Linked DNA regions of Homo sapiens. The protein of the gene in region 4 interacts with the protein of the main gene of each other region in a biochemical or structural test. Each region holds a gene or a part of one and is shown on either strand. Other genes may lie near its edges.

What was found.
Region 1: the proteins of ACTG1 (region 4) and TMSB4X are reported together in a solved structure, tested with the Homo sapiens proteins (2 studies listed by BioGRID, with this or other methods).
Region 2: the proteins of ACTG1 (region 4) and WASL are reported together in a solved structure, tested with the Homo sapiens proteins (one study listed by BioGRID).
Region 3: of the proteins of ACTG1 (region 4) and GZMA, one has a biochemical effect on the other in vitro, tested with the Homo sapiens proteins (one study listed by BioGRID).

What each region holds. Positions count from the first base shown.
Region 1 is NC_000023.11:12,970,349-12,977,734, reverse strand, and holds TMSB4X (thymosin beta-4), read right to left. Parts: upstream 2,626-7,386; 5' UTR 2,567-2,625; intron 1,490-2,566; 5' UTR 1,474-1,489; coding exon 1,374-1,473; intron 959-1,373; coding exon 924-958; 3' UTR 512-923; downstream 1-511.
Region 2 is NC_000007.14:123,683,000-123,690,020, reverse strand, and holds part of WASL (actin nucleation-promoting factor WASL), read left to right. Parts: intron 1-870; coding exon 871-979; intron 980-5,440; coding exon 5,441-5,502; 3' UTR 5,503-7,021. UniProt on the Homo sapiens protein: Regulates actin polymerization by stimulating the actin-nucleating activity of the Arp2/3 complex. Involved in various processes, such as mitosis and cytokinesis, via its role in the regulation of actin polymerization.
Region 3 is NC_000005.10:55,097,787-55,105,661, reverse strand, and holds the start of GZMA (granzyme A precursor), read right to left. Parts: upstream 3,017-7,875; 5' UTR 2,980-3,016; coding exon 2,910-2,979; intron 189-2,909; coding exon 44-188; intron 1-43. UniProt on the Homo sapiens protein: Abundant protease in the cytosolic granules of cytotoxic T-cells and NK-cells which activates caspase-independent pyroptosis when delivered into the target cell through the immunological synapse. It cleaves after Lys or Arg.
Region 4 is NC_000017.11:81,509,787-81,517,433, forward strand, and holds ACTG1 (actin, cytoplasmic 2), read right to left. Parts: upstream 3,014-7,647; 5' UTR 2,948-3,013; exon of another isoform or gene 2,829-2,947; intron 2,575-2,828; 5' UTR 2,569-2,574; coding exon 2,446-2,568; intron 2,357-2,445; coding exon 2,117-2,356; intron 1,841-2,116; coding exon 1,402-1,840; intron 1,323-1,401; coding exon 1,141-1,322; intron 1,048-1,140; coding exon 904-1,047; 3' UTR 185-903; downstream 1-184. UniProt on the Homo sapiens protein: Actins are highly conserved proteins that are involved in various types of cell motility and are ubiquitously expressed in all eukaryotic cells.

The DNA.
Region 1 (7,386 bases), on a different chromosome or scaffold from region 4:
TTCACTAATCTTAACTGTATTCATTAAAGCAATTGTAAATATTGAACTCTGATTAGAAACCGGCCATTAGAAAATGAGTAAGCTCAAGTCCTAAATTCCTTCTTAACGCAGCTGCTAAAAATGTAATTTTTACTCATCTATGTTAATGCTAGCACTTGGTTAAATAACCAAGTTCAATTTGATACCCTGAAATAAGATACTGTGCTGTAAATTATCACCTTCATTTTCTTGAGCACGTGCAATGTCAGCTTATCAAAACCCGTAAGAACTGCAAAGATATTTTTATTAAAGCTCTCACACAATTCATACTAGGAATTCAATCAGCCTGAGAAAATGATCTCCTAGTATAGACAAGGTATTTTGCATACCTGGGTGAAACCCATTTCTATGCCATAAGGGAATTTATCCAGTCACCAGATGCTTGTCCCTCCCCAATGGACCAAGAGGTAGGCCTCTTTGCAAAGGTTTCATCCGCGATCCTTCCAGAAACCAAACAGACACACCAGCTAAGTTTTTAAACTTTTTATTTGCATATTAAAAAAATTGTGCATTCCAATAATTAAAATCATTTGAACAAAAAAAAAAATGGCACTCTGATTAAACTGCATTACAGCCTGCAGGACACCTTGGGCCAGCTTGGTTTTACTCTAGATTTCACTGTCGTCCCACCCCACTTCTTCCACCCCACTTCTTCCTTCACCAACATGCAAGTTCTTTCCTTCCCTGCCAGCCAGATAGATAGACAGATGGGAAAGGCAGGCGCGGCCTTCGTTGTCAGTAGTTCTTTGATGTGAAAGGGGCAGCACAGTCATTTAAACTTGATCCAACCTCTTTGCATCTTACAAAGTTAAACAGCTAAAAGAAGTAAAATAAGAAGGCAATGCTTGTGGAATGTACAGTGCATATTGGCGGCGCACGCCTCATTACGATTCGCCTGCTTGCTTCTCCTGTTCAATCGCTGTGACCAGAAAAAAAAAAAAAAAAAAGATGGAGGGAGATGATTAAAGGATTCAGTACAGACTAAAGGGCTTTCATTTAAAGCATCTTTTCAAATCATAAACATTCTACACGGTATTCCACAATGGAATAAAATATGTATATTGAATATACTAAATAGAAATACATTTTAATGGATAAATGTTTGTATATTAATATGGCATATTAAATATTCCATTACTAAATTACTAAAGCCCCGTGTTTGTTGGCTGCAAAACCATTTTTAATTAACCTTTGCAAGCCACATTCATCAACTGTCGGCTCTTCCCCCGCACTCCCCCCTCCCGAATTCTTCCCGCGGCCGCTCCCAGCCTCCCGCCCTCCCACCGGCCGCTCCCACCCAGCCTTTCTAAAGATGGGGGTGGGTCGGAGCTCACTTTCTTTGGAAGGCAGTGGATTTTTCTCTTGCGTCTCTGTCTTCTTCAGTTTCGACTTATCGAATTTCTCGATCTCAGCCATATCGGGTTTGTCAGACATGGTTGCGGAGGAAAAGCTGCAGGGAGCAAGCCAAGAGCGAGCGTGAGGAAGAGCCACCCGCCCCGCTGTCTCTGGGCTGGGAACTGCACTTCTGCCCTCCGACCCGCAGCCTGAAAAAAACCCTTCTCGCTCTCCTACTGCTGCCGTTCCGCGCTCACGAGCTTCCTCTTTCTACAGAAAAAGAGGCGACACCCCCCGCGCCCCTCCTCCCCATATTTCAAAACGCTGTGGACCAAAGAGGGCGGATGCCTCTCAAAGCCGAATCTTGCAGAATAAAGGAAATTGACCACTGCGAATTGTTAATTACAGCGTTTAAAATTAAAGGCTGGCTAGGACAAGGAAAGAAGAGGAAAGCCACTTCCAAATTCAAGTGGGAAAAATCGGCAAGAATTCCTAAAATGGAGCCCAGGTAGGAAAAGCGTTTCCATTTCCTAGCCGCGGCCTCTCCGCAAGGATGCGGGCCGGATCCGGCTTTCTAGTCCTCTCACAAAGGCGGCGGCCGCGGCTGGAGCTTCCGACCACCGCCCTACCGGCTTCATCGCCCGCGTCACAATGCAGCCCCGCACACAAAGCGGCCGCCGCGCGCCCCGAAGCCGGTCTTGCCTGCTCTCCCGGCAATTCGGCATCCCTGGCACACATGTCTCTGCAAGAAGGACTGTAAAGATGTCATAGCACAGCCCCGCCGCCGCCAGGCTGCACAGATGCAGCCCGCGCAGCCGTCCGAGGCTGGGAGGAGGCTCGGGGCTCGGAAGATGAACCTCAGAACAAAGGACTTGTCTATTCCCCCATATCTCAGCCTCCAAGGCAACGCACAATACCTTTGCGGGCAAACACTAAGAAATTTTTTAATGTCCCCTCCGAGCGGCACGGCAAAACGCCAGTTTTTCGGTTTTGTTCTTAAATCATCGATTTCCCCACCCCATTATCCAGTATCTAGGGTGTTTCGCATCCCCCCAGCTCCCCAAAGTAGCCTTCCCGGGGAGAACCACTCGGGCTCGGATTTAGGGAATGCCTTCACAGGGACGCGGATGATGAAAGGGCGGGGACGGAGGCAGGACGGCAGGAGGAAGGAGGCAGGGGCCCTGGGGCTCACCGAAGCGAGGCGCACGAGTACGAGCGAAGTCTGGTCTGCGCAGTGGCCACCACCGAGTTGTCGGGCGGGGTGCGGCGGGCGCAGCTTTATGGGCGCTCCTATGTAAATGAGGTGATGTCACCCGCCGGCCCGCTTAACTCCTTCGCGCCGCGTCTCGGAACGGCATCCGGAGGCCTGCCGGGCTTTTGGGGAGGGGAGCCCCACCCCCACCCGGGGTCCACTAGTGCATGCACCCTAACCACAACGATGGCGAAAAAAATGAGCAAAGCACCCTCCAACACTTCATAACACATTTTCCCCTTTTACGTTTATTTCATTACGATGAATTTTTGCAACAGCAGCGCAGAAATTGCTCTTGGGGACCAGTGCATAATAACTAAGGGTCGGGGTGGCACCTGGGGTGACAGGCATTCTTTTATTTCGAAACTGCCTTTGTCTACTGTGGACATCTCCACACAAGGGCGCGGTGTCCCTCCCTGGAGGGCCTGGCCCGCTGCAGGGGTACGATTCCTGTGACTCAGCTTTCAGTCCAGTGGCGGGCATGCGCCCCACCCCGGGCCTCTTTGTCTTCCTCGCTGGCGTTCCTCTTGCCTTGGGTGGGACGTAAAGCACCCTTAAGTGATTTTAAAAGAGAAAGTTTCATCACTGAAACATCCATATTGTTTCATCAGCATAATTTTTGTGAGCACTCAACAGTAGTATTTGCTGGGTGTAAGGTAATTTGGAGTTTATAGGGTAAAACACCTCCCTCTTAGCAAAATAAGTCAAGCTCAAGCTCTGCCATTGACTTTACTGCCGGACAATGAGGAAGTTCTTTACCTTCCTCTTCCTTATTTTCATAAATTTTAAAAGTGATGGCTAAGGAGGCCAGCGTTGAATTCCAAAGACTACAGTTACATTATCTCTAATGTCTTAAGATGAAATTCAAAAATCAAATTATATTTTCAAGGGAGCGTTTCCAGCACTAGGACATCGCTGAAGTGCATCTGCATCTGGAAATATAAGAGATTCGGGTAGAGGGAAGCAGTTTTCAAAATGGCACCTGACTCTGTGAATACCAGTGACCCACTTGCTACTGAAAATTAGTTACAAATACCATGCCACGCGCCTGCAAATGGCGTGTGAAAGGAAAAAGACTCGCCGGTTATAAAGAGGCCTAGCTGTGATTATTTCTAAGAGACAAGGCAGTGTGCAAAATATTCCTTCTCCTTTTCCGTGGCCTGGGGAAATGTTTTTAGAAACCCCTTGCTAATCATTTTTATGGCACAGGCTTTTGTCTCGCTGGGGATTAGAGTCAACCTTATATATAGACCCTTGAATGCCACTGCCAGCAGCTTGGACTTCCCCGTTTCTCCATCTACTTGACTTCCTTTTTCCTGGGGAGGAAGGAGGTGGGGGTGAGCAGGGGCAGGTGACCGTCTGGTCCCCTAGTTAATGCTCTGCTGGGTGGCTGCCTTCCTGGCCTCCGAATGGGGCACTGGACCTGTTCGTGCATGCACCAAATGTCACCTGTCTGGTAACAGCCCCCCCGCCCCTGTTCCATGTTGGGAGTCTACTTCATCGTTGAAACACAGAAAAGATCTTGCAGGGTGCCTTTTCGCCCGTTTAGCTGGCAGCTGCCGTTGTACCGACACCGTTTCCGCAGGTTCTGTGATTCTGTTTCCCCTCACCCAGCTGCTGTCGAAAATCATTTCTTTCCTCCCAATGTCTCCTGATGACAAAGGAGTGCCACTACCTTCTCCTGGCTTCTTCTCCCAAGGGCCTTTCCTCAGAAAGGGTTAGGCCTCACTGAAGCAATTCTCCAAAGGAGATGGACGAATGCAAACTTGGAAATGTCTGGAGAAGTTTTCCAGTGCGGTAGCAAGCAGCCTTCCACTGTGCTGAGACACTGATGGAGGGCAGGTGGAAACAGAGAGGAAGAGAAAGAGAGACGACTGCTTAAAGGAAAAGAGTTCCCATGATTGGGACTGACCTGCCAACCGGTCAGGAGACCTAGAGAGACAGGAAAGGGAAGGGTGGTGCAGATACAAGGAAATGCAAACCAAAGGAATATTCTTAAAAGTTGCATGACTCTGGCCATGTGAATGAATCTTTCTGTGCTGGAGTTTTCTCATCTGTAAAATGGGTTCATTGCAACACCGACCTCACAGGGTTGTTGGGAGGAGTAAATGCTTCGGACAGTGCATGACAATTAGTAAGCTCTTTCTATTGTTATTATTCGTATGATTTAGGATGGAAGGTTGAGGAAAAATAATAAAATAATTGTCTTAGTGTTTAGAATTAATTAAAAATTTTAGGTGTCTTGATATTATTTCTCCTATAGAGACATTTATATATTATTATATATTATTTCTATATAATTAATACATATGAATATATATTATTATTTTCACTTACAAAATGTTGATAGAAGATCTTTTGGTAGTTTTACAGCAAATAAAACATGACAACTCCTGTCGGTTGATATTTTCTAAGAGTCAGGCATTGTAACGTAAGTTTTACATTTGTTTTTTCCTTTCTTTCCCACCGCCTTTCCATAAGAAATTTCCAGATGGGGAAACTGAGGCTTAGAGAGCCATCATTGGGTTACCTCAGCTGGTAGCCACTCTGTTATATATGCCAAGAGCATGTAAAAGTCCTCCCCACATCCTCTTAGTCTGTACCCGAGAATCACCAGGAAGAGTGTGAGGAGCTAGGCAGTTGTGCTTTCCACAGCGTCTGGTGGATAGTAATTGCTCAATAACAGTTCTCCCACTGCATTGAATTGATTTTCTTTTCTTTTCTTTTTTTGAGACAGTCTCGCTCTGTCACCCAGGCTGGAGTGCAGTGATGTGATCTCGGCTCACTGCAACCTCCACCTCCCGGATTCAAGCCATTCTCTGCCTCAGCCTTCCATGAATTGATTTTCTTAAATGAGGGAGGTACTTGAACTCAGGTGTTGAACCTGTGACTCTAATTGTCTTGCTTTCTTCTCCCCAGATAATTAAATCCATTTAGTCTTAATGTTCTAGATGTCAGAATGTTCCAGGATCATCCCTGCCCCAGGCAGCTACATTTATAAGTCTGTTAGTATGTGCCGGGCACAACTACCATTGAGGTAGCAGTTTTCGATCCCAATTAAAAAGACAGAGGCACACAGGGGCAAAGGAACTGCTTACAATGGGTGCAGACATTGTTCCCAGTGAGACCCCCCCCCAAAAAAAAAGGCCTTGGGTGACTCCGGGTTGTATGGTGCACTCTGGCCTTGGGGCTCTCTGGTGAAAGATAAGTAGAGTCCACTTTGCGCCTGTCCTGCCTTCCTCATCTCACGGGCCACAGCGCCCAATGAAAAATGTGCCAACATTGCCTGCGTTGAAGGGCGGTTCCCCTCCAACCCTGTGTCTGGTGGAACCCGGAAAAGGTGGCAGGGGACGCAGTTTTATTTTGCTTTCCAGGGCGGGCCTGGGATAGAGTCGTGGCTATTTCTAACCATGGAGAAGTTGGCTAGAAGTCTGAATTCATGAAAATGAGTTCTATTAGTTTGAACCTATTTAATTTTGTGCCAAAAACTTACCAGAAGAAGAGAAGAAGGAAGAGGAGGGAGGAACGGAAGAACAGGAACAAAGCTGAGCTCCCAGCTCTTGCTTTCTCAAGCCCAGATCCCTTTGTCTGAGTTTCAGGGCCTCCTACCATCTGCCCCACCTGCCTGCACCCCACGTTCCCCTGTGGCCCCTGCAGTCTCCATCTGGTCTCCCTCACAGCAGAGCCCTCCTTCCACTGATTGGAATCTAAAACCCCTTAAAGACACAGCCTAAGTCCCCCCTGTGAATAACAGGAAAATGAAAAGAGAAAGGATATTTAGTAGACTAGCTATATCTTGTAACCTCAGCTATAAGCCCTTTTAAACAATATCTGATTCCATTCTTACCCTATGGAGTGAGTACTAATATCCCCATTTTACTACTAAAGAAATTGAGGCTCCGAGAATTTAAGCAATTTGCTCTTAATCAAATGCCCAGGTCTGTCTACCAAGTCTTTCCACCGAGGCCTATCTCTGCCTTATCTTTAGTTGAAGTATCTTTCTCCAGGACTCCCACCCAGAGCGGACCCACATGGTGCAAAGAGGAAGGCGAGCAGGGGGTGGCAGGAAAGCAAAGAGGAGTGAAAGAACACCCTCGCCTGTGCTCAGTGCTGAGTGCCGTGCTGCTAATTGTCCTGTTTGCTTTATTGATCCGATGGAAACTTTAGAGCCAAAAGAAATGTAAAAGGGGATCTCATTCAACCCAGTTTCCCTTCTGTGGCTTGAATTTTCCTCTACAACATCCCCTCCAAGTGGTTACTCAGCCTCCACACAGCCAGGGAACAATACGGAAGCAGAGAATCTTCGAGTTAACGCAGGGGGCAATGAGTAGCTTAGCTTGGCAGGCACTTGCGTAAAATGAGAGAAAGTGACAGGAAATAACGCTGGGAACCAGGCAGGGGCCAGGTTGTAGAATAATGATAGTAACAATCATGGCTGTACCCATAGCAGTAATAACAGCAAGTGCTTTCTGAGTGCTTTCCATATACTGGGAAGCTTTCCATGTAGTATTTCCCGAATCCTCACACAATCCTATGACAGTGGCACCATTATTCTCCTCATTTTGCAGATGAGAGAATTCTAGAGGGATTAAATAACTTCCCCAAGAAAACACAACGAAAGCCAAAGGCAGGATTTGAACTCAGACTGGCTGGCTCAGAAGCCGCCTCATTTAAACACTACTCTTCTCTAGAATCCTAAGGCCTTTTAAAGGCTTTGTTCCATACGCCAGATAAGGGTAAAGTTATATTCTGTCTCAATC
Region 2 (7,021 bases), on a different chromosome or scaffold from region 4:
TCTATATCTTAGGGGGAACCACTTTGAATTTTTTTAAAAAAGGTGTTTACTCCAGAAAGAACAAGGAGTATTAGAGGAAGAATTGTACAGATCAAAATGGAAAGTTTGTCTAAATAAAATTGTCTTTGGGAAATGATTAAGAATTTCAAAAATATATATTATATATGTATGTATTAAAACATAGGTAATTATTTAATACAGCTATGCTGTTTCATCTTTAATTATAATTTTTTTTTTCATGAATGCACTTTGGCACAGCTGGAAGTACTTCAGTTAGGGATTGTTACTTGCCTAGTGAGGCAGGTACATTTTGAAAGTTGATCAACTCATCTCCTTAAAAAGAAATTATATACTATGAGAAAAGAGGTTCATTTTGAAGGTATAAATGTAACATAAAGGTGTAAAGCTGAATTTTTGTAGGCAAATATAAGTTTCTACAGTTGTTTTTCAATATCTTCAGTGTGCGTCCCACGTAACAACTCTGGAGTCTAAGTATTAACCTCTGTTTATAACATGAAATCCCTTGATAAAAGCTTTAAAGTTGATCATCTAAGTCTGTGTGTGCTGGAATAAACAGAAGTAACCCAGCAAGTATTATTCAGGAGAGGGTTTGTTATCTGAATGTAAACATAGATTTGGAAATGTATTTTTGGCTTATACATTAAGATGGAAAGGAAATATTTTTGAATAATATCTTTAAGGCAGCAGTTTATTTCTTGTTAATTTGATTAATCTTGTCCTGCGCTTGCCAGTTTGATATCTTTTTTGTCTTTTACAATAAGAAGTGATTCTAAGAAAGTAGGACTTTCTGGAGACAAAGATTCTTGGCTAAAGATTTATTACTGAGTTTTGCTAACTTTCTTTTCCAAGGTGGCTGATGGCCAAGAGTCTACACCACCAACACCTGCACCCACTTCAGGAATTGTGGGTGCATTAATGGAAGTGATGCAGAAAAGGAGCAAAGCCATTCATTCTTCAGGTAGAGAGAGAGAGAGAGAGAGAGAGAGAGAGAGACAGAGAGAGTGTGCGTGTGTGTTTAATAAATTTGAATGTTTGACGTTCTGTTATTTTTATGACTGTCTTTGCTAGCTTTCTCTCTGCTAATTGAGTAACTACTGATGTGGGCTCTAGGATGTATTTTAAAAAGTTGTTGCCTGTGTGACTAGTCTCTCTGAGACTTAACAAATGCAACACCACCACAGCCATAGCCATAAATTGAAAGAACAGCTTTGGGAATATTGACAGTTTTGTTTCCTATATCAGGAAATGCTAATAGACTTCCTAGCAAACAACCTCTAAACAAAGCTTGAGATTTTTAGATCTCATTCCTGTGACATTACTGTGACATGAAAAATTCAGGGCTGGGTGCGGTGACTCACACCTGTAATCCCAGCACTTTGGGAGGCCGAGGCGGGTGGATCACCTGAGGTCGGGAGTTCGAGACCAGCCTGGCCTACATGGAGAAACTCCATCTCTACTAAAAATACAAAAAAGTTAGCCGGCGTGGTGGCGCATGCCTGTAATTCCAGCTACTCGGGAGGCTGAGGCAGGAGAATTGCTTGAACCCAGGAGGCAGAGGTTGTGGTGAGCCAAGATCGCACCATTGCACTCCGACATGGGCAACAAGAGCAAAACTTCGTCTCAAAAATAAAATGAATAAATAATAATAATAATAAATCGGGCCATTTACCTCATCTGTAAGGATTAGGGATAAGAATTTCAGTAATTTTTACTGTTTCTAGAGTTTGCTAAAGAATACTAACTTTTTTTAAACCTTTCTTTTTCATTTTCTAAAAGGTTGATTTGAAGAAACCAGTACCTATTCTGAGGTTATTATTAAACATATACATACCACCATATAAATATTCCTTTAAAGAAAGAACAAGAATATGAGTTTTGCTGATTGGAGTAGTTGAGGTTTGCTAAATAGCTTCTCCAACATGATGTGCTAGAATCAGATCTTTCTTCTTAGATTTATTTAATCTCTGTGAGCCTCAGTTTCTTGTTTGTTACATTCAGAGAACTCACAAAACATATAGATGTGAGAATTAAATAGTATGTCACTAACCTGCAGATTGCCTAGCACATAGTAGGTGCTTAATAAATGTTACCTTCCTTTTGTTTCTCTGTAAGGATGTCCATGTCTTAAGATCCTTGAGCAATGTTTGTTTTCCTTAAATAGGCATATTTGTACCTACCCTCCATTACAGAGATAGAGATAAATATTTATTGTGGAATAATAATAAAATTTTAACAAAAAAAAAGTCCCTGCCTTCATCGACATGCATTAGGTCTAATGAGAGAGAGAGACAAGCAATAAACAAAGAAAACTAGAAAAACATACAGTATGTTAAATGGTGACATGAAGTAAGGACAAAAGTCTAACAGAAAAGGGAAATAGGGGGCAGACTGTTGAGAGAGAGGTTCATTTTGAAATGATAAAGGATGATAAGGGACAATAAAGCCTAACTGAGGTGACATTTGAGAAAAGACCAGCAGTTCAGGAAGTGAACCATGTAGAAAACTAGGGAAAGTGTATCCGATGGAAAGAACAGAAAATATAAAGTCTGTGAGGTTGAGAAACAATGAGGAGATCACGGAGCTTGCAAGGGAGGGAGGGAAAGAATAGTAAGGAATGAAATACAAGAAGTAGTAGGAGGCCAGTGGTAAGGCTTTGGAGACCCCTGAAAGTGCACTAGCTTTTATTCTGCATATGATGGGAAGCCATTGGAGGGTTTTTAGCAGAGGTGTAGTAATGATCCAAGCAAGAGGTGATGGAGGCTTGAACCAGGTTTATAGCACCAATGAGAAGTGGTTAAATATTAATTATATTTTGAATGTGGAGATCACTGGTTTTGATGATGGTTTGAAAGTGAAGGTTGAAGAAAAAGAAGAGTGCAAAATGACTCCAAGGTTTTTGACTTGAACAACTGGAAAGGGGAAAGACTTACGAAGAAAAAGTTTGAGAGGGAAGATTAGGAGTTTGATTTTACATATTAAATTTGAGATACCTATTAATTCAACTATAGATGTGGAGTAGGCATTTCGTTATGAGTCTGGAAGTCACAGGAGAGGTCTGAATTGTTAAATTGCATGTCAGTAGGATATACATAGACACCTGGTATTTAAAGTTATGGTTATGTTTATGGTATAGTCTTCTTTAGCATAAAAACAGTGAAAATTACCTAAATTCTTAGCCCTAATCCTCACAGATGAGGTAAACTGCCTGAATTTTTTATGTCATAGTAATGTCATAGGAATGAGATCTAAAAATCTCAAGCTTTGTTTAGAGGTTGTTTGCTAGGAAGAGATAAAGAAAGGTCTTCATTCATTCATAAAGAAATGTAAGGCTTCTGTGAACTACATGATTCTGAAAAAGCATTTATTCTATGCTGGTATCTGTGAGTTCTGCTAAATATTTCCCTACAATAAGTTTTTTTTTAATAGTATGTAATAGTCACGCTAATATAATGAAAATATAGGATGGTTTTTACTTATTTTCAGACCCATTTATTTTAACTGTTAGTATTTCTGTGGTAGTACCTGATGATGAAATTATTAGCTACTTCTTCCTCTTCACCATAGATACTGATAAGTTTCTGTCTTTTGTCAGTCTGTAATGCCAGCATAGTCAGGTGTCTTTGATGCTTTTCATCCAGGTAAATTTTGTGAAGCATGTCTAGCAAAATCTGGTAGCAAATTATTTCCCTTGCTAGAAGAGTAAACAGAAATTAACATGACTCAATTGAACTCCTTTCCAAATAAATTCTGTAACAATTTAGAGCTGACCATGAGACTTAAATAAATAAATAAATAAATAATAAATAATTATCGTTTTAAAAGTAACAACTTAGTTTAGGGCTAAGAGAAGATAATGTTGCTTCTCTTGGGCTTCTGTTAATTTTCAAGTTCTAATACTAGAGCTCCAGTACTTCTTCAAATACTACCTTCACACAATCAATTTTACATGAGAAAAATAGAAGAAAAAGATTGTTCTGTGTTCTGTACATGTAACCCACACGTATGTCACCTAGTCTTACTGGCTTTTTATCATTATCAAGTACAATTACTCAGCCACTGTCCCACTTTATATACTTGGCCTTCATGGGTCCTATATATATATTTATATACATATTTATATATATTTATATATTTATATATAGGTATATGTATTTATATATTTATAGGTGTATATATTTATACATATTTTATATATAGATATATGAAGAGGTTAAATATGGAAAGTCAGTATAATATAGAAGTATGCTTATAAAATCTGATAACTAAATATTCCTTCAACAAATATTTATTGAATGGCTGGTGTGTAGTGCTGTTTTGGTGTTGAGGATACAGTGAGAAATAAGATAGGCAAGGTCCGTGCTGTCATGGAGCTTAATAGATAAAGTACAATAATTTTAGATATTAGCAAGTGATATGAGGAAAGTAAAATGGGATAGGCCGTTACTGATTATGGGGAAGAGCTATACTTTACATATGATGGTCAGGAAAGGCCTCTCTGAGGAAGTAGTTTATGAATGGTTTCTAAATGATGAAAAGATTCAGTTTAACGAAGAAATAGCTACTGCAGAAGTTCTAAAGCCAGAATAAGATTGGTGAGTTTAAGGGACAGAAAGGAGACCATCTTACTAGAGAGAGTGACTTGAAGGGAGAGTACATATGAGAGAAGTTTGGGGAGAGAGAGAGACAATAACTGGACAAATCATGTAGGGTCTTATGGAGGGAGGTAGCATCAGATTTCATTCAAATAGCAGTGGTAGCCACAGGAGGACTTTAAGAAGGGTAGCAACATATTTTTTAAACTTGAAATTTAAATAATATCACTCCATTTGCTCTGAGTCAAATAGACTCTAGAGTTGCAATAATCCAAGCAGGATGTGATGGTGGTGTGGAGAGTAGCAGTGAAAGAGGTGAAAAAGAGCAGGCTTGATAATTGGATCGTGAAAAAGGAGGAAGTAATAATAATTTCTAGGTTTTTGGCCTGATTATGTGACAGGATGGTGATGCCATTTATTGAGATGGAGCAGCAGACCAGGATGGAGCAGGAAAAGAAGATTGGGGAAGGAAATAAAAGTTAGAAGTTTTGAGTTTGAGAATCCATATGAAGAGTACAAGAAGGTAGTTGGATTTGTGACAGAAAGGTCAACCCAGATGATTTTATACATTAACAGGTTGAAATTTGTCACATAGATATTAAGGAACTAGAACCATTGTCTTCTAAGCCCTGTTTTAATCTTTAGTTTACTATCATACTCTATAGATATATTTCTTTAGATTCACTTTAAACTGTTTTAGTAACTAGATTCTTCTGGGAGTCACATTATCTGTGTTTCAGGAGTTAAATAATTGGAGAAACCACCCAAGAATTATGTAATGTCATTTTATTTATGCATATGTTTTAATTGTCTTGATTTTCTTGTAGATGAAGATGAAGATGAAGATGATGAAGAAGATTTTGAGGATGATGATGAGTGGGAAGACTGATCTATATATTATATATATATATATATTTTTAAGGTGAAATACTAAACACTACTTTCTGTCTGTGGATTCTGTAAAATTATCATGTAAATGTTCTACCAATTTGCTGTATATTTTTGTTGCCTTTTTTGCTTTTTTTTAATCTGTGCAATACCTCATTTAATCTGTAAAGGTTTGTCGTAATCCTCTACAAAGCTACTCCCTGTTATTGTGTGCAAGTTTACACCAGGATGCTCACTTGATTTGTGAATATTTTTCATTCCATCAACAAGGGAGTTTAAATACTATATGTGAGACTGACAAAAACCTTAATGTAATTTACTTATAATGCCAGAAGGAAAACACTATTTTCATACCCTACTTTTTCTGTACCTAAATTTTCTTAAAAAAAAATCTAGTATAGCACTACATTCTTTTTTAAGTGATGCAGACCTTAGTTTCTTTAGCCCCTTTATTTTGAATACAATGCTACATATGAATGTTGAAGCTGATACATTGCACAGTTCTGTAGACATCACTACACCGATGTAGTTTCTCAAATTTTAGCAATATGCTCTACATAAAATCACTACAGAGATACTAGTGGGGAAGACGATTAACACACCTCTTACAGTAATACTGCCTGTTATTGGTATAGCAGTGGTATTTGCAGACTGGGATCATAAGGAGCCCTTAAATACTTGTTATTGACTGGGGTTATTTTTATGCTGTAGCAAATGTGACAGGCTCTTTTTAGCAAAATTTTTGAAAATTTTTTTGGTATTACTCTGAAACAAAATTTAAGTTGGAGTTTCAGGGATTTAGGGAGTAGTTTTCATTCTACATGAACTGAGGTAATATTATGGTAACTCCAATATTTGGTTAAAAAAACTATACAAATCAGAATAGTACTAAAATACTGTAGAATTTTAGCATTTTTATTTTGCACTTTGTGTGGATTGAGGTGTTCAGAAATACCAACCATAAAAATGTAATCTAGTTGGCAAAGGTGTGCGCTAAAACACGGAACCGAACATGCATTGATTTGGATAACTTTTGAGGGTTTTTGTCAAATAGCATGTGAAGAGTTACATTTTTCTTAAAAGATTGGTGGTCCCAATGTCAGAGTTCTTGGAACAGATAACTGAATGATAGATTTTTTTTTTTTAAAGATAAAACTTTACAACCTGCACATTTGTTATGCATACTAAATGGTGTGTTAAAATTAGGGTTTCTTTGCCTCTCTACACTACACTAATCTGCCTAAAGGTGGTTGTTTCATATTTATAATGCTAATTATCATACCTACCTACTTTAAATTTTAGGTAGAAAATTATCTGATTTAAATACAAACATATTTTTCTCACATTGAGTAATATGCATAATGTAGTTCCAAATGTATTTCATTACTATAGTCACAATATCCAACTAAAAATTACGCTATCTAGAATTGTACCAACCAAAATCTCGTATTGGCAGATCTTGACAGGCTGGACCTGCAAGATGTGGCTTGAATTTTAACCATTTATTACATAATCTCTAG
Region 3 (7,875 bases), on a different chromosome or scaffold from region 4:
AGAGTATCTTTACAAACTTTTTTTTAAAAACCCAGGCACTTACAAGTTACAGTGAGCTGCAGTCAACACCCAGTCTTTTGCAATCAAAGCCCCAGCACAGATGGTTTTTCTGTCAAGACTAAGTAGGACCATGTAGGGTCTTGAATGAGGAGTTACTTCATTTCCTCCAATAATTTTTTCACAGACATCTGTTCAATGGAAAAAGACAAATCAGATTGGTGCTCACCCCCAAAGAGCTCTACACAAAGTCATGTTTCTAAGACCAGCCATGCTTTTTGCACTCAGAGAGGAAGTCTGGATGAGAGCATTTCCCCTGCTTTTACTCTATGTAGACCCGCAGACATCTGATGCAAATCCTATTCCTGTTGGACTCTAGGGTCCTGTTTTTCCACCCACAGAAGCGAGGCCATTGACTGTTCCAGGATCATTAGGCTGGATGTCACAAACCAGCAACCTCAGGCCCCAGGGCAGAAAGCTCTGCCTTGGTCTTTACCATCAACAGTTGCTGCAGGAAATGCCAGTGGTAGTGACAACCTCAAGTGCTCCCACCCTTTTTGGCTAACTATTAATTTGGGGGAAATAGATAAGACTTTTAGAAGCCTCATAACTTCCCTTTTAACCCCAAGCCATTGCAAAAATATAGCTTATGAACCGATATTAGCATCGTTTAGCTGTGACCCTACCCCTCAGTCCTTTGGTCATTATGAGACTTTTGGTTATTAAACTGCACTGTTCTCACTCATAAGTTAAGAAAATAACATCGATTGCACCTCCCCTTCAATCTCTAGACCAAACCATGGGGTTTAATCTAAGGTCTTTTCCAATGAGATAGGGAAGAGAAGAGAGAAGATACCATATGCCAAGAATTCTGCCTAAGTGACATTTCCTTGATGATAGTCTTGAAGTAGAGACCCATTGTTAAGGAACAGTGAGAACTAAACACAAGGCAAACCATACATGCAGATAGAGAGAACCTTATGTCTTAGTGATACACTCCGAGTGCTCCACCTCCTGCACCAGATGTTCTTGGATTCTCCCAAAATAGTTTTGCTGAGACTCATGGTTTCTTGAATAGGGCACAGTGCCTCTTGTTCCATAATTAGGACTAAGTCATTGCCAAATTCACAGGCAAGTATTAATGACAGCTATAGAAGCCTTTCGTAAGATTTGATGAGGGTAAGAGCAAGGAGGAGAGTGACCACATGAAATGTGGCTAGTGTGATTTGAAAAAGCAGAGGTCTCTGCTTTTAAAAAGGAAACTGGGAGGAAGAAATTCTAGGCTCTAGAAACAAAAGGGTAAAGAGCTTATAGAAACAAAAGACCTTCACCCAATCCCAATTTTCCTAGGGTGATTCATGTACAGATAGATTTCAACTGTGCCTTGCTTTGCTGTCTGTTCCTTATATGGGCCCACACTGCCCTCTCTGAACACAGGAAACAAAGAGGAGCACAGCAGGTTGCTTTTGTTGTTTTCCTTTGAAGAAAAGATATGGCTGGATTTATCTGCCCTGTGTTTTTCTGTTATGGAGGATTTAACATGCCTGAATATAGTCATACTATGCCCTGCTTATAACATAGCCAACCTTTGTCCCAAATGTCCTGCAGCCTTGTTATTTTTATATTTCTTCTCTCTCTCTCTCTTTTTTGTTTTTTTTTTGAGACAGAGTCTCGCTCTGTCACCAGGCTGGAGTGCAGTGGCACGATCTTAGCTCACTGCAGCCTCCAACTCTCTGGTTCAAGCGATTCTCCTGCCTCAGCCTCCTGCGTAGCTGGGATTACAGGCACGTGCCACCATACCCAGCTAATTTTTGTTTTTTTAGTGGAGACAAGGTTTCACCATGTTGGCCAAGATGGTCTCCATCTCTTGACCTTGTGAAACACCCACCTCAGCCTCCCAAAGTCTTCTCATATTTAGGTGCATAAACCAGATATGCACCTAAATATGATAAACCAGAGTTCTTTGGGAATTCCTGGCAAGGCAGGTTATTACATAAGTCCCTGCCTCCAAAAGCTGATGAATCCTGGGAAAAACCGTGGCTGGCTCCATATTGCCACAGCTTGAGAGTAGTCCTCACTTCCTAGCAGGTTCTTCAAGGGAAATCTAGAGCTCCCCAAGAGCTGTCACCCTTTCAGTGGTAATACCATGAATTATACAGCATTTTAACCCATGCATGCTCAACTCACACAAAAGCAGAAATATTGGTTACCATTTGGTAGACAAAAAATTAGCTTAATAAAAAATACTATAGCACACCCAAAGGGTTAATGAGGGAACTGGCCTCACGCCTTAATTTATTGCCAAAGAGTCTCTAGACCAGAGAAATAAGTATAAAAATTCTAATAATTCCTGATTCACTTTTGGTGTCTAGGTCAGATTTGTCTTAATTGTCTTTATCTATGCATTTTCTGCAGCAGGAAAGGCTGAGCTGACTAAGTTGCCACTATTCCTTTCCTGGAAGGTACTATTTGTTTTACGAACAAGAGAGTTTTGTTAACTCATTTTTACATTGTCCTTTTTGGCAATTTTCAAGTTACAAATTGGCAGCAATAAGCATTGGTGGTTCTGCTATCTTTTGCAAAATAATTATGAGAAGAAAAGATTTTTTTTTCTAAAATACAGACATATTTAAAATCCAAGAAAGAATGCTATTTAAAAAAAAAAAATAGAGACAGGGTCTCACTATGTCGCCCAGCCTGGACTCAAACTCCTGCGCTCAAGTGATCCTTCCACCTCAGCGTTCCTAGTAGCTGGGACTACAGGCATGTGCCATTGTGCCTGGCTAAACATTATAAGGCTTGGGGGAAAACATCTTCTTTCAGTATAGGAAGGTAATATTGCCAAAAGTTCATTGAAAGTCTGCTCCATTTTGCTTCATGGTCATAATGGAAATGAGAAGAATCAGTCTTACCTTCAGGAATTAGCAGGAGAGAAACGACAACTGAGAGAGAGGATGCCAGAAATCTATAGGAGTTCCTCATTGTGGCTGCTGTCCCACATCAATCAACCTGAAAATCTGTTTTCAGTTCTTAACTGCCTCTATCTATATACTGAGAGTAAAAAGGATGTGGTTTCCTTTCATTTTTTTTTTCAAGTTTCAAAGTTTAGCATTAGGAAACCAAATCCAAATAAGTGAGAATGGTGGATGATGGCTCACTGCCAGCAGGCAGGCTTTCCTTTGCTAGGACTGCTGAGGGGGGCGCTGGAATTCTACAGGGTAGGAGAGGGGCAAGGGACCTTGTTGCCATCAGAGTACACCAGGGAAGACTGTAAAGTGTCTCAGCTATGATTTTGAAGACGCTTTCATCATCTGCAATATTATCTGTAGTATCCATGACTGGAAACTCTCGAAGACTTAAATTAGAATTTTAATAAAAGTCCTCAAAATTGGTCACCAATCAAAATTCTTTCTAGCTGTCTCCTTGGGTTATATAAGAATTAGCAGGCCAAGTGCAAGCTGAGGACAGGAGGGAGATTTATTTACATAGAGGCTCCTGCCTGGATTTTCCTTCCCCACTTTGTGGTGAGTGTTTATTGTGCTCCTGCCTGGTCTGTGGCAGGTGTGGGAACATGGGCTGGAGGAGGGTAGGGGCTCTTGGCCCTTTTCAGCCCTCTGATTGTGCGTTCCTGATTGTCTAGTTTCACAACTTTAGATACTGAAAGTATCTCCGAGTTTCCCTCCCTCCCCGCCCCCCCCCGACCCCTGCTTCCTGCCTTTCTTCCTTACTTTCTTCTGAACAGGTTTAGGTGAGAAAAGAAGTGGGAGTCATTTTTGTTCCAATGTTGGGGAATGTCTCACTCTAAGAAGAGTCAACCTCAGTCCCTGGAGGAACAGTATGCAGTGTGCTTTCTATTTGAAATGAGTTCAGCTCTTTTTCTGAGCTGAGGATGTGGTCTCCGATACAATATACATGGTCAGATGTGCTGTCAGGATGTTGGGTACTGAACCAACCATCCCCATAGTTAACATCCTGATGACTTCAAACCTAGTGGTTACTTCTTTAGAAATCAAGTGACCTTAGAAGGGAGCCCTGCTGAGACCCCTGCATTTCTTTTTCTCAGATATTACAAGTGTATCAAAGGTTAATCATTTTCAGTAACAGCAGTGAGGACCCTGCTATTGGTTTTGGTGAGTAATTTTAGTGCAGACTTAAAAAAGTCAAATTGTAATTAACTACACCTACTGAAAAATTCTTAAAACATTGACAATTTTGTTTATTTTTATGTGAATGGTTGCTCTTCCATTTATGTTGACTTCTAACAACTTTATGAGACATAATTCACACACCATAAAGGTCACCCATTTAGAGTGTATGAGTCAATGGATTTTAGTATATTTGCATAGTTGTGCAGCCATTACCAGTACCATGCTGTTTTGGTTACTGTAGCCTTGTAGTATAGTTTGAAGTCAGGTAGCATGATGCTTCCAGCTTTGTTCTTTTGGCTTAGGATTGTCTTGGCAATGTGGGCTCTTGTTTGGTTCCATATGAACTTTAAAGTAGTTTTTTCCAATTCTGTGAAGAAAGTCATTGGAAGCTTGATGGGGATGGCATTGAATCCATAAATAACTTTGGGCAGTATGGCCATTGTCATGATATTGATTCTTCCTATCCATGAGCATGGAATGTTTTTCCATTTGTTTGTGTCTTCTTTTATTTCGTTGAGCAGTGGTTTGTAGCTCTCATTGAAGAGGTCCTTCACATCCCTTGTAAGTTGGATTCCTAGGTATTTTATTCTCTTTGAAGCAATTGTGAATGGGAGTTCACTCATGATTTGGCTCTCTGTTTGTCTGTTATTGGTGTATAGGAATGCTTGTGATTTTTGCACATTGATTTTGTATCCTGAGACTTTGCTGAAGTTGCTCATCAGCTTAAGGAGATTTTGGGCTGAGATGATGGGGTTTTCTAGATATACAATCATGTCATCTGCAAACAGAGACAATTTGACTCCCTGTTTTCCTAGTTGAATACACTTTATTTCTGTTTCTTGCCTGATTGCTGTAGCCAGAACTTCCAACACTATGTTGAATAAGAGTGGTGAAAGAGGGCATCCTTGTCTTGTGCCAGTTTTCAAAGGGAATGCTTCCAGTTTCTGTCCATTCAGTATGATATTGGCTGTGGGTTTGTCATAAATAGCTCTTATTATTTTGAGATACGTCCCATCAATACCTAGTTTATTGAGAGTTTTTGGCATGAAGGTTGTTGAATTTTGTTGAAGGCCCTTTCTGCATGTATTGAGATAATCATGTGGTTTTTGTTGTTGGTTCTGTTTATGTGATGGATTATGTTTATTGATTTGCATATGTTGAACCAGCCTTGCATCCCAGGGATGAAGCCAACTTGATCATGGCGAATAAGCTTTTTGATGTACTGCTCGATTTGGTTTGCCAGTATTGTATTGAGGATTTTCGCATCGATGTTCATCAGGGATATTGGTCTAAAATTCTCTTTTTTTGTTGTGTCTCTGCCAGGCTTTGGTATCAGGATGATGCTGGCCTCATAAAATGAGCTAGGGAGGATTCCCTCTTTTTCTAGTGATTGGAATAGTTTCAGAGGGAATGATACCAGCTCCTCTTTATACATATGGTAGAATTTGGCTGTGAATCCATCTGGTTCTGGACTTTTTTTGGTCGGTAGGCTATTAATTATTACCTCAATTTCAGAACCTGTTATTGATCTATTCAGAGATTCAACTTCTTCCTGGTTTAGTCTTGGGAGGGTGGATGTGTCCAGGAGTTTATCCATTTCTTCTAGATTTTCTAGTTTATTTGCATAGAGGTGTTTATAGTATTCTCTGATGGTAGTTTGTATTTCTGTGGGATCGGTGGTGATATCCCCTTTTTCATTTTTTATTGCATTTATTTGATTCTTCTCTTTTTTTCTTTATTAGTCTTGCTAGTAGTCTGTCATTTTTGTTGATCTTTTCAAAAAACCACCTCCTGGATTCATTGATGTTTTGAAGGGTTTTTTGTGTCTCTAGCTCCTTCAGTTCTGCTCTGATCTTAATTATTTCTTGCCTTCTGCTAGCTTTTGAATTTGTTTGCTCTTGCTTCTCTAGTTTTTAGCATTGTGATGTTAGGGTGTTGATTTTAGATCTTTTCTGCTTTCTCTTGTGGGCATTTAGTGCTATACATTTCTCTCTACACACTCCTTTAAATGTGTCCCAGAGATTCTGGTATGTTGTGTCTTTGTTCTCATTGGTTTCAGAGAACATCTTTATTTCTGACTTCATTTTGTTATTTACCCAGTAGTCATTCAGGAGCAGGTTGTTCAGTTTCCATGTAGTTGTGTGGTTTTCAGTGAGTTTCTTAATCCTGAGTTCTAATTTGGTTGCACTGTGGTCTGAGAGACAGTTTGTTGTGATTTCTGTTCTTTTATATTTGCTGAGGAGTGCTTTACTTCAAATTATGTGGTCAATTTTAGATTAAGTGCGATGTGTTGCTGAGAAGAATGTATATTCTATTGATTTGTGATGGAGAGTTTTGTAGATGTCTATTAGATCTGCTTGGTGCAGAACTGAGTTCAAGTCCTGGATATCCTTGTTAACCTTCTGTCTCGTTGATCTGTCTAATATTGATAGTGGGGTGTTAAAGTCTTCCATTATTATTGTGTGGGAGTCTAAATCTCTTTGTAGGTCTTCAAGGACTTGCTTTATGAATCTGGGTCCTCCTGAATTGTGTGCATATATATTTAGGATTGTTAGCTCTCCTTGTTGCATTGATCCCTTTACCATTATGTAATGGCCTTGTCTTTTTTGGTCTTTGTTGGTTTAAAGTCTGTTTTATCAGAGACTAGGATTGCAACCCTTGCTTTTTTTGCTTTCCATTTGCTTGGTAGATCTTCCTCCATCCCTTTATTTTGAGCCTATGTGTGTCTTTGCATGGAGATTGGTCTCCTGAATACAGCACACTGATTGGTCTTGACTCTTTATCCCATTTGCCAGTCTGTGTCTTTTAATTGGGGCATTTAGCCCATTTACACTTAAGATTAATATTGTTATGTGTGAATTTGGTCCTGTCATTATGATGCTAGCTGGTTATTTTGCTCGTTAGTTGATGCAGTTTCTTCCTAGCATTGATGGTCTTTACAATTTGGCATGGTTTTGCAGTGGCTGGTACCAGTTGTTCCTTTCCATGTTTAGTACTTCCTTCAGGAGCTCTTGTAAGACAGGCCTGGTGATGATGAAATTTCTCAGTATTTGCTTTTCTGTAAAGGATTTTATTTCTCCTTCACTTGTGAAGCTTAGTTTGGCTGGATATGAAATTCTGGGTTGAAAATTCTTTTCTTTAAGAATGTTGAATATTGGCCCCCACTCTCTTCTGGCTTGTAGACTTTCTGCTGAGAGATCTGCTGTTAGTCTGATGGGCTTCCCTTTGTGGGTAACCTGACCTTTCTATCTGGCTGCCCTTAACATTTTTCCCTTCATTTCAACCTTGGTGAATCTGACAATTATGTATCTTGGGTTTGCTCTTCTCAAGGAGTATCTTTGTGGTGTTTTCTGTATTTCCTGAATTTGAATGTTGGCCTACCTTGCTAGGTTGGAGAAATTCTCCTGGATAATATCCTGAAGGTTTCCTAACTTGGATCCATTCTCCCCATCACTTTCAGGAACACAAATCAAAATGGTCTTTTCACATAGTCCCATATTTCTTGGAGGCTTTATTCATTTCTTTTCACTCTTTTTTCTCTAATCTTGTCTTCTTGCTTGATTTCATTAATTTGATCTTCAATCACTGACATCCTTTCTTCCACTTGATGGAATTGGCTATTGAAGCTTGTGCACGTGTCACGAAGTTCTCGTGGTATGGTTTTCAGCTCCTTCAGGTCATTTAAGATCTTCTCTACACTATTTATTCTAGTTAGCCATTCGTCTAATCT
Region 4 (7,647 bases):
TGTTCTTGCACTTTCGATTTGGAAGAAATCGAACTGCTCAGTTTATTGTTAAGCCGTTTTCTCACCAGCCCACGAAGCCAAGCTGAGCAGCACCCACCGCCCCCACCCCCAAGACTACCCAATACTTCCAGGTTGGTCTGTCTTTCCCAGCCCACTTGCTACTTCCCCAAACAGGAGCCATTCATTGGTTACGGCAGCACTTTTATTTTTCCTTACACAATGACGTGTTGCTGGGGCCTAATGTTCTCACATAACAGTAGAAAACCAAAATTTGTTGTCATCTCTTCAAAGAATCGAGAATTGCGTACAAAAAAAACCTTACATAAATTAAGAATGAATACATTTACAGGCGTAAATGCAAACCGCTTCCAACTCAAAGCAAGTAACAGCCCACGGTGTTCTGGCCAAAGACATCAGCTAAGAAAGGAAACTGGGTCCTACGGCTTGGACTTTCCAACCCTGACAGACCCGCAAGACAAAACAACTGGTTCTTGCCAGCCTCTAGAGAAATCCCAGAACACTCAGCCCTGACACGTTAATACCCTGCACAGATCAGAGGCTGCTGGCCACACAGACTCACCAAGCCACAGACTTGTCTTCCACAAGCACGTTCTTACCTTAGCCACGAAGTGACCAAGCCACACGTACTAAAGGTTGAACTCAAAGATATGTACAGGGTATTAAACAAATACCAAGGGGAACAGTTAACTTCAATACAAGGTCAAAATCAGCAACAAGTTCTACAATCCAGTGCTGATATCAGATACAAGCTTCAAGGACAATTTCTTTTCGAAGGCTTATTCCAGTTTCGTGAGGCTAGCATGAGGTGTGTGCATTTGCCAGGGGCAAATTTCTATTCTCAATTAACCCATGCAGCAAATGCTACGCATCTGCTGAGTCCGTTTAGAAGCATTTGCGGTGGACGATGGAGGGGCCCGACTCGTCGTACTCCTGCTTGCTAATCCACATCTGCTGGAAGGTGGACAGTGAGGCCAGGATGGAGCCACCGATCCACACCGAGTACTTGCGCTCTGGGGGTGCGATGATCTGCAAAGACAGCCAGGCACGGCTTCAGCTCACAGAGCGCCCCCCAGTCAGCTCTCCCGAGCCAGGCAGAGGGCCACCAACCCCTCGACTCACCTTGATCTTCATGGTGCTGGGCGCCAGGGCGGTGATCTCCTTCTGCATCCTGTCGGCAATGCCCGGGTACATGGTGGTGCCGCCCGACAGCACCGTGTTGGCGTACAGGTCTTTGCGGATGTCCACGTCACACTTCATGATGGAGTTGAAGGTGGTCTCGTGGATGCCGCAAGATTCCATACCTAGGGGACAGAGCCCTCCCTTAGTGATGCTGTGTCACCGAGGATGTAAGAGTAGAAACCTTTAGCTCACAACACCTACCCAGGAAGGAAGGCTGGAACAGCGCCTCCGGACACCGGAACCGCTCATTGCCAATGGTGATGACCTGGCCATCGGGCAGCTCGTAGCTCTTCTCCAGAGAAGAGGAGGATGCGGCGGTGGCCATCTCCTGCTCGAAGTCCAGGGCGACGTAGCACAGCTTCTCCTTGATGTCGCGCACGATTTCCCGCTCGGCCGTGGTGGTGAAGCTGTAGCCTCGCTCAGTGAGGATCTTCATGAGGTAGTCGGTCAGGTCCCGGCCAGCCAGGTCCAGACGCAGGATGGCGTGGGGGAGGGCGTAGCCCTCGTAGATGGGCACCGTGTGGGTGACCCCGTCTCCAGAGTCCATGACAATGCCAGTGGTGCGCCCAGAGGCGTAGAGGGACAGCACGGCCTGGATGGCCACGTACATGGCCGGGGTGTTGAAGGTCTCAAACATAATCTGAGAAGGGACAAGGGGCGGCTTAGTCAGGGACAGAGACCCACGGCCACCCCATGCTCACACGCCACAACATGCTGCATGCCAGTGTGATGTGTGGAGAAAAGAAAAGAACGCAGGCAGAAACCAAATGAGAAACCTGGAGGCTTCAGGGAGGAAATGCCGGGAGAGGAACAGAGCCTGGAACAGCGAAAGAAACACTTAAATGTCAGAAATCAAGCCGGGCAGAAAATGACTGGGGAAAGGACGGGAGGAGCACGGGCGTCGGCCGAGCCTCACCTGAGTCATCTTCTCTCTGTTGGCCTTGGGGTTCAGGGGGGCCTCGGTCAGCAGCACTGGGTGCTCCTCCGGGGCCACGCGCAGCTCGTTGTAGAAGGTGTGGTGCCAGATCTTCTCCATGTCGTCCCAGTTGGTGACGATGCCATGCTCAATGGGGTACTTCAGGGTCAGGATGCCACGCTTGCTCTGGGCCTCGTCGCCCACGTAGGAGTCCTTCTGGCCCATGCCCACCATGACGCCCTGCAGGGGACGACCCGTCAGCCTCGCCGGCGACACCGAACCCACCCCGCAACGCAGAACCCAGGAGCCCCGCGGCGCCATCCACTCACCTGGTGTCTGGGGCGCCCGACGATGGAAGGAAACACGGCTCGGGGAGCGTCGTCCCCAGCAAAACCAGCTTTGCACATGCCGGAGCCATTGTCAATGACCAGCGCGGCGATCTCTTCTTCCATTGCGACCTGCCCGGAAAAGGATGGACTCAGGCGGGCGCGTCTGTAACACGGTCCCCTCCCCACAGCCACCTAATGCCCTCCCGCGGGGAAGCCTCGGCCCTGCCCCAACCCCAGCGGCCGTGGCCTCCAAGATCGCAACCGCCTGGAACCGAAGGCCGGGCCTTTTACGTAACGTCCACGGCTCGGAAGTCTGCACTGCGGCCGGGCCCCGCCCTGGACCCCCGGCGCCCCCCCAGCCCCGTCCGCCTGACCCGGCCCACCCCGCCTTTTGTTCCCGGGGAAGGCGCGACGAGGCCTCGGCAGCTGGAAGCGGGGCCAGCCGGGGTCGGGGGGCGCAGGCCTGCGACGTCCAGCTCAGGCCCCGGGGCGGGGCGCTCACCGGCAGAGAAACGCGACGGCGGAGCGGCGGAAGAACAGAGTGCGAGAGCTGGCAGCGGCGACTGAGACCGACCGCGGCCTCCCCCGCCGTTATTTAAGCGGAAGCGGCGCGCCCGCGCGGCCCGGCGGCGCGCGCGGCCCCAGAACATGTCCATATATGGCGATCTTTCCGAAAGCCGGGCACCCATTGGCCCGCCGGGCAGGGACACGTGGGGCCCCGGCCCGCCCCGCCCCCAGCCCGCACCGCCTCCCAACGGCCCCGCCCGCGCCACCCCCGCGCGCTCGCGACCCTGCGCGGGCCGGCGGGCGGGTCTGAGTTGGGGCGCCCTCCGAGGGTCGCCGGGAGGGCCGAAGGGCTGACGGGCCTGGCCCCTCCCCGGGACTGCCGCGCCGTGGGGAGGGCCCTGCTGCGCCCCGAAACTGCCTGACCCGGGGCGGGGCCGCGCCGGAGCTGGGGTGGGTCCCCGAGTCCCCGGCCACGCTGCGGGGCTTTGCTCCCTGGGACGTCCCTTGCAATCTTTCCCCTCGGGCTCCACGAGGATCTCGGGCGCCAGTGCCGGGCTGAGGAAGGGGCGCGGCGGGGGTCCGCGACGCTCTGCGTCCCTGGGCGCGGGGGAGCTCTCAGGAGCCCTCACCTCGCCCCGGTCACCATAGGAAACAGCCCGCCCGTCCCCAAGCGCAGCCACCACCATGCAGGTCCCTCCACGGGGCGCCCTGCCCCGGATCTCCGTTCGTTTGAAGACCGAGGCCCCTTTCTACCCGACCCGACACATCCCTGCCCCTCAAATCACAGGCCTGATTGTCCCCAGGCGCGCGCTCCGGGTTGGGGCTACCCCGCCCCCTTATGTGCTGAGAAGGTGGTGTGGAGTGAGGCCTTTGTTTCATTCTGGTCACCTGTAGACATTATAGGGAAACTGAGGTAGACAATGGGAGCCCTGACTTTTTTGAAGGTCGGCTCCCCAGCTTCGGGCGGTCGGGGGGATACCCTCTTCTGTTTACGATGCTAGTTAAGAGCAGCGATCAGGGCTGGCGTGGGTTTAGCCACAGGCTTGTCCAGGGCGCTCACTCCTCGCCAGGAGCGGCGCCGGTGCTTTGGTTACACCCCGAGAGGCGCCCGGCACTACGGTTTCCTTGTGCGCTGCTGGAATTTTCAGGGTTGGAGCGCCGGCCGCGTAGGGGTGGCAGTGAGGCCGCGCAGTGAGGGGACGGACTCGCCCGAGGTCGCAGAGCGTTCAGATTGACTCGACAGGCTGGGGGGCGGGGCCGGGGTCCCCACGCGGAGTCCGGGGCCCTGCAACGTTAGCTCGCGACCCCGTGTTTGGGAGTGACAACAGCGAGTCAGGGCAAGGCGGCCGGCCCAGCTCACCTGCGGGCTGCAGTCAGCCCGGACGCCGAGACCCGTGCCTAAGGCCCCCGTGCCCCAGGCCTCCCAGGGGTGCTGAGCGCCCCCAGGCCCAGAATCTCCGGGGGCCCGGGCAAGGCTGTCAGGTATGTTCCCTCCCGTGGCGAAGCCGGGGCTGGGCCTCCAACAGACCCACCCGGACTCGCGTCCCTGGGCAGAACCACACAGCCTGCTCGACCCCCGGGTGAGGACTTCCACTTGGGGGGTCCCAAGATGCGACGTCACACACCGAGGGACACGAGGCGGGTGGGGAATAGCCACAAGCCCCTCCATCCTGCGTTCACCCCACACTACGTTCTGCTCCGGGCCGGCCGGGGACCCTGCCCCTCCGGGTCTCTGGTCTCCTCCGAAGCTTCTTTGTCTAGGAAGTGCGGGGAGGTGCCGGCCCCGGGCGCGCGTCCCCGTCCCCCACCTTTCTTCCCCACGTTGCGGACCCGAGGCCGCCAGGGTCGTGGGGGCGGGGGCGAGGCTGGCGCCTCGAGACCCCCGGGTTCCCCGCCACCCGCAGGGCCTGAGCCGCGGGGAGGGGCGGGGAGGGGACGCCGCCGCGGGCCGGGGGTGGAGAGCGACTTCCTCCTCCGCGGCCGCGTCACGCGGCAGGGGTCAAGGTGTGGCCCAGGTACGCGGCGGGGGGCGGTGGCGCGGCCATATTTGGCGACTTCGGCGCCGCCGGAGCCCCGCCCGCCTCCGCCGGGAAGCCCGGCCCGGGGCAGCGCCATCCCCGCCCGCCGCCGGGCCTGAGTCACGGCGGGCGGGGGGCGGAAGTAACGGACGGGGGGCGCCCGCCCGGCGCTCCTGGCCTTATTTAGTCAAGGAGGCCGCCGATTGGCGCGCGGGACAGAGGGGCGGCGGCCGGGCAGCCTCGGGGCGTAGGAGTGGCCCGGCGCCTCCGAGGGGTCGGGGCGGGAGCCGGGCGTGGGGGGCCTCGGAGCCTGGGGAGTCCCGGGACCGACGGCGGCGGGGATGCGGGTCTGCCTGTCCCTGGGATGCGGGCGGGCGGGCAGGGCGAGGCCTGGAGCCCGCGGGGCGCAGGGGGCTGGACCGCGCGCTGTGATTTTTCTGTTTAGCAGCGGGGCCTCGCCCAAGGTCGCGCGGGGCCTGTCCTGGATATGCTCTGGGAAGCCAGTGGCGCAGGGCAGCCGCCACCCTTCTGGAACCAGTGCCGGAGAGGGCCGGGCAGCTGGGCCTGGGGAGGGGACCGCATGGATGGAGCTGGGGGTAGCTGGGCGGCCTCCGGAGCCGGGAGAGTCGGCAGCTGCACTTCCGCCAGAGGTGGGTGTGTCCTTCACATTTCAGGAAGGGAGACTTGGGGCCTGGAGAAGCGATGTGATTTTTCTTTTCTAGTTCAGTGCTGGTTTTGATGGCTTTTTATCATGACCTTGTTATGTCTTATTTTAGTTTCGGCCCATTTAGTGGATACGACAACAGTGGCCCAGGGAGGTATGGCAGAGCTGAGGCTTAACCCAGGGCCTGCGCCCTCCACGGCCTGCACTGCCCCACCTCCAGCTCCTTGCCCTGTTCCTCCCTCTGCACCGGATCAGCCCCCGGACTCTGGGTCACCTCCACACCAGTTGACAGGGCCCCCCAGTCCCCACCGCCAACCACCTGGCCGGCTACTTGTCAGACAGACATGGGGGCGTGGGCATGGGTCCCCACCCCTAGCCTTTGCCTCTGTCACTCTACCTGCCTGGAATGTCTACTTTTTCTTTATATTTTATTTTATTGTATTTTTGAGACAGTCTCATTGTCGCCCAGGCTGGAGCGCAGTGGCGCGATCTTGGCTCGCTGCAACCTCTGTCTCCGGGGTTCAAGCGATTCTCGGGCCTTAGCCTCCCGAGTAGCTGAGACTACAGGCGTGCACCACCATGCCTGGCTAATTTTTGCATTTTTGGTGGAGACAGGGTTTCACCATGTTGGCCAGGCTGGCCTGAACTCCTGACCTTAAGTGATCCACTCGCCTAGGCCTTCCAAAGTGCTGGGATTACAGGCGTGAGCCACCTCACCCAGCCTGGAGTGTCTCATCTTCCACCACTAAATGAAACGATGGACCCTGAACAGAAAAAGGAACAGTGGTGGAAGAACTAGCAAAGCCCACAGCCTTGAGTTTGGCCGTAAGTATCAAGGTTAATCTCTCAGTTATGGCAGTTGTCCCATGACCGTGTAAGATGCCAGGTTAGGGGACACTGGGAATAGAGCATTGGGAAACCTTCCCACTGTCTTTGCAACTTTTCTGTAAGTTTAAAGTTCTCCCATAATAAAAAGCTAACTTGAATCCAAGGCAAGCAAAGCTTCCCTACTCTCAGCCCACCTCCCTCTTCTCCCACACCCTTTTGGACAGATGAAATGCAAGGTGATGGCCCTGTTTCCTGAAGCTCTTTCCAGGGCCTGGCTGGCTCCCTTGGGCAGGTCTGGAGTGGGCTCTGCCTCTTCAGGAACAGTGGTCCCAAGGCTGGTCCCGGTGGGCAAGGCTGGTTTCCTGCAACTCGGCCTGGCTGCCTCTGAGTTTTGGCTCAAGGGACAAGGCCAGGGTCCCACACTTCTGTCTCCTGGCTGGTGCCCAGCTTGGGGCTTGGTTCTCCTGCCCCACTGCGCAGACTGAAGCTCAGAAGGCTCAGCTGGCTGCCCCCCACCCCACCCCTGCGGAGTCACTGGGCAGCTGGCTGTGAGTGGCCAGGTGCTGCTTGTTTGGTCCCAGGACCAGGTCTCTGCATGTGTTGTCCAATTCTCACCTGGTCCCCAGACCAGGTCTCTGCATGTTTTGTCCAATTCTCACCTGGTCCCCAGACCAGGTCTCTGCATGTTTTGTCCAATTCTCACCACTGGAGGAGAGTCCCAGACTGTGGAGTTTTCACAGGGAGGGAAACTGAGGCAGTCTCCTGGGTCAGGGTAATTAGCCAGAAACAAGGTCACATTCTGGGAGGTCAGAAGGTTCTGGAGGGCGGTGTGGGCACTCTACACGAGGGTTAGGGGCTTGAATGCACACAGACACTCAGGCCGAGAGTCCCTCAACCCCACTCCCCTGCCCCGCCCCACCCCCGCTGCTCCAGGCCTTCTGGAGACAGGATCCCTGTTGCAGTTTACCTGAGGCTCCCCATCCCCGCTGTGAGCAGGAACCAAGGAGGCCCCTGGAAGAGCCCTGAGCTGGGAGTCGGACACCTGGGTTCTGGGCCCGGCTCAGCCCTGTGCCTGCCACGTGACCTCTCTGTACCCCAGTTCCTGTCAAAAAAGAGGAGAGGGCTCTGCGATGTGAGATGTGTGGCCCATCAGGGGCTCTGAGGCTGCTTGCCCTCCCGTGTGGA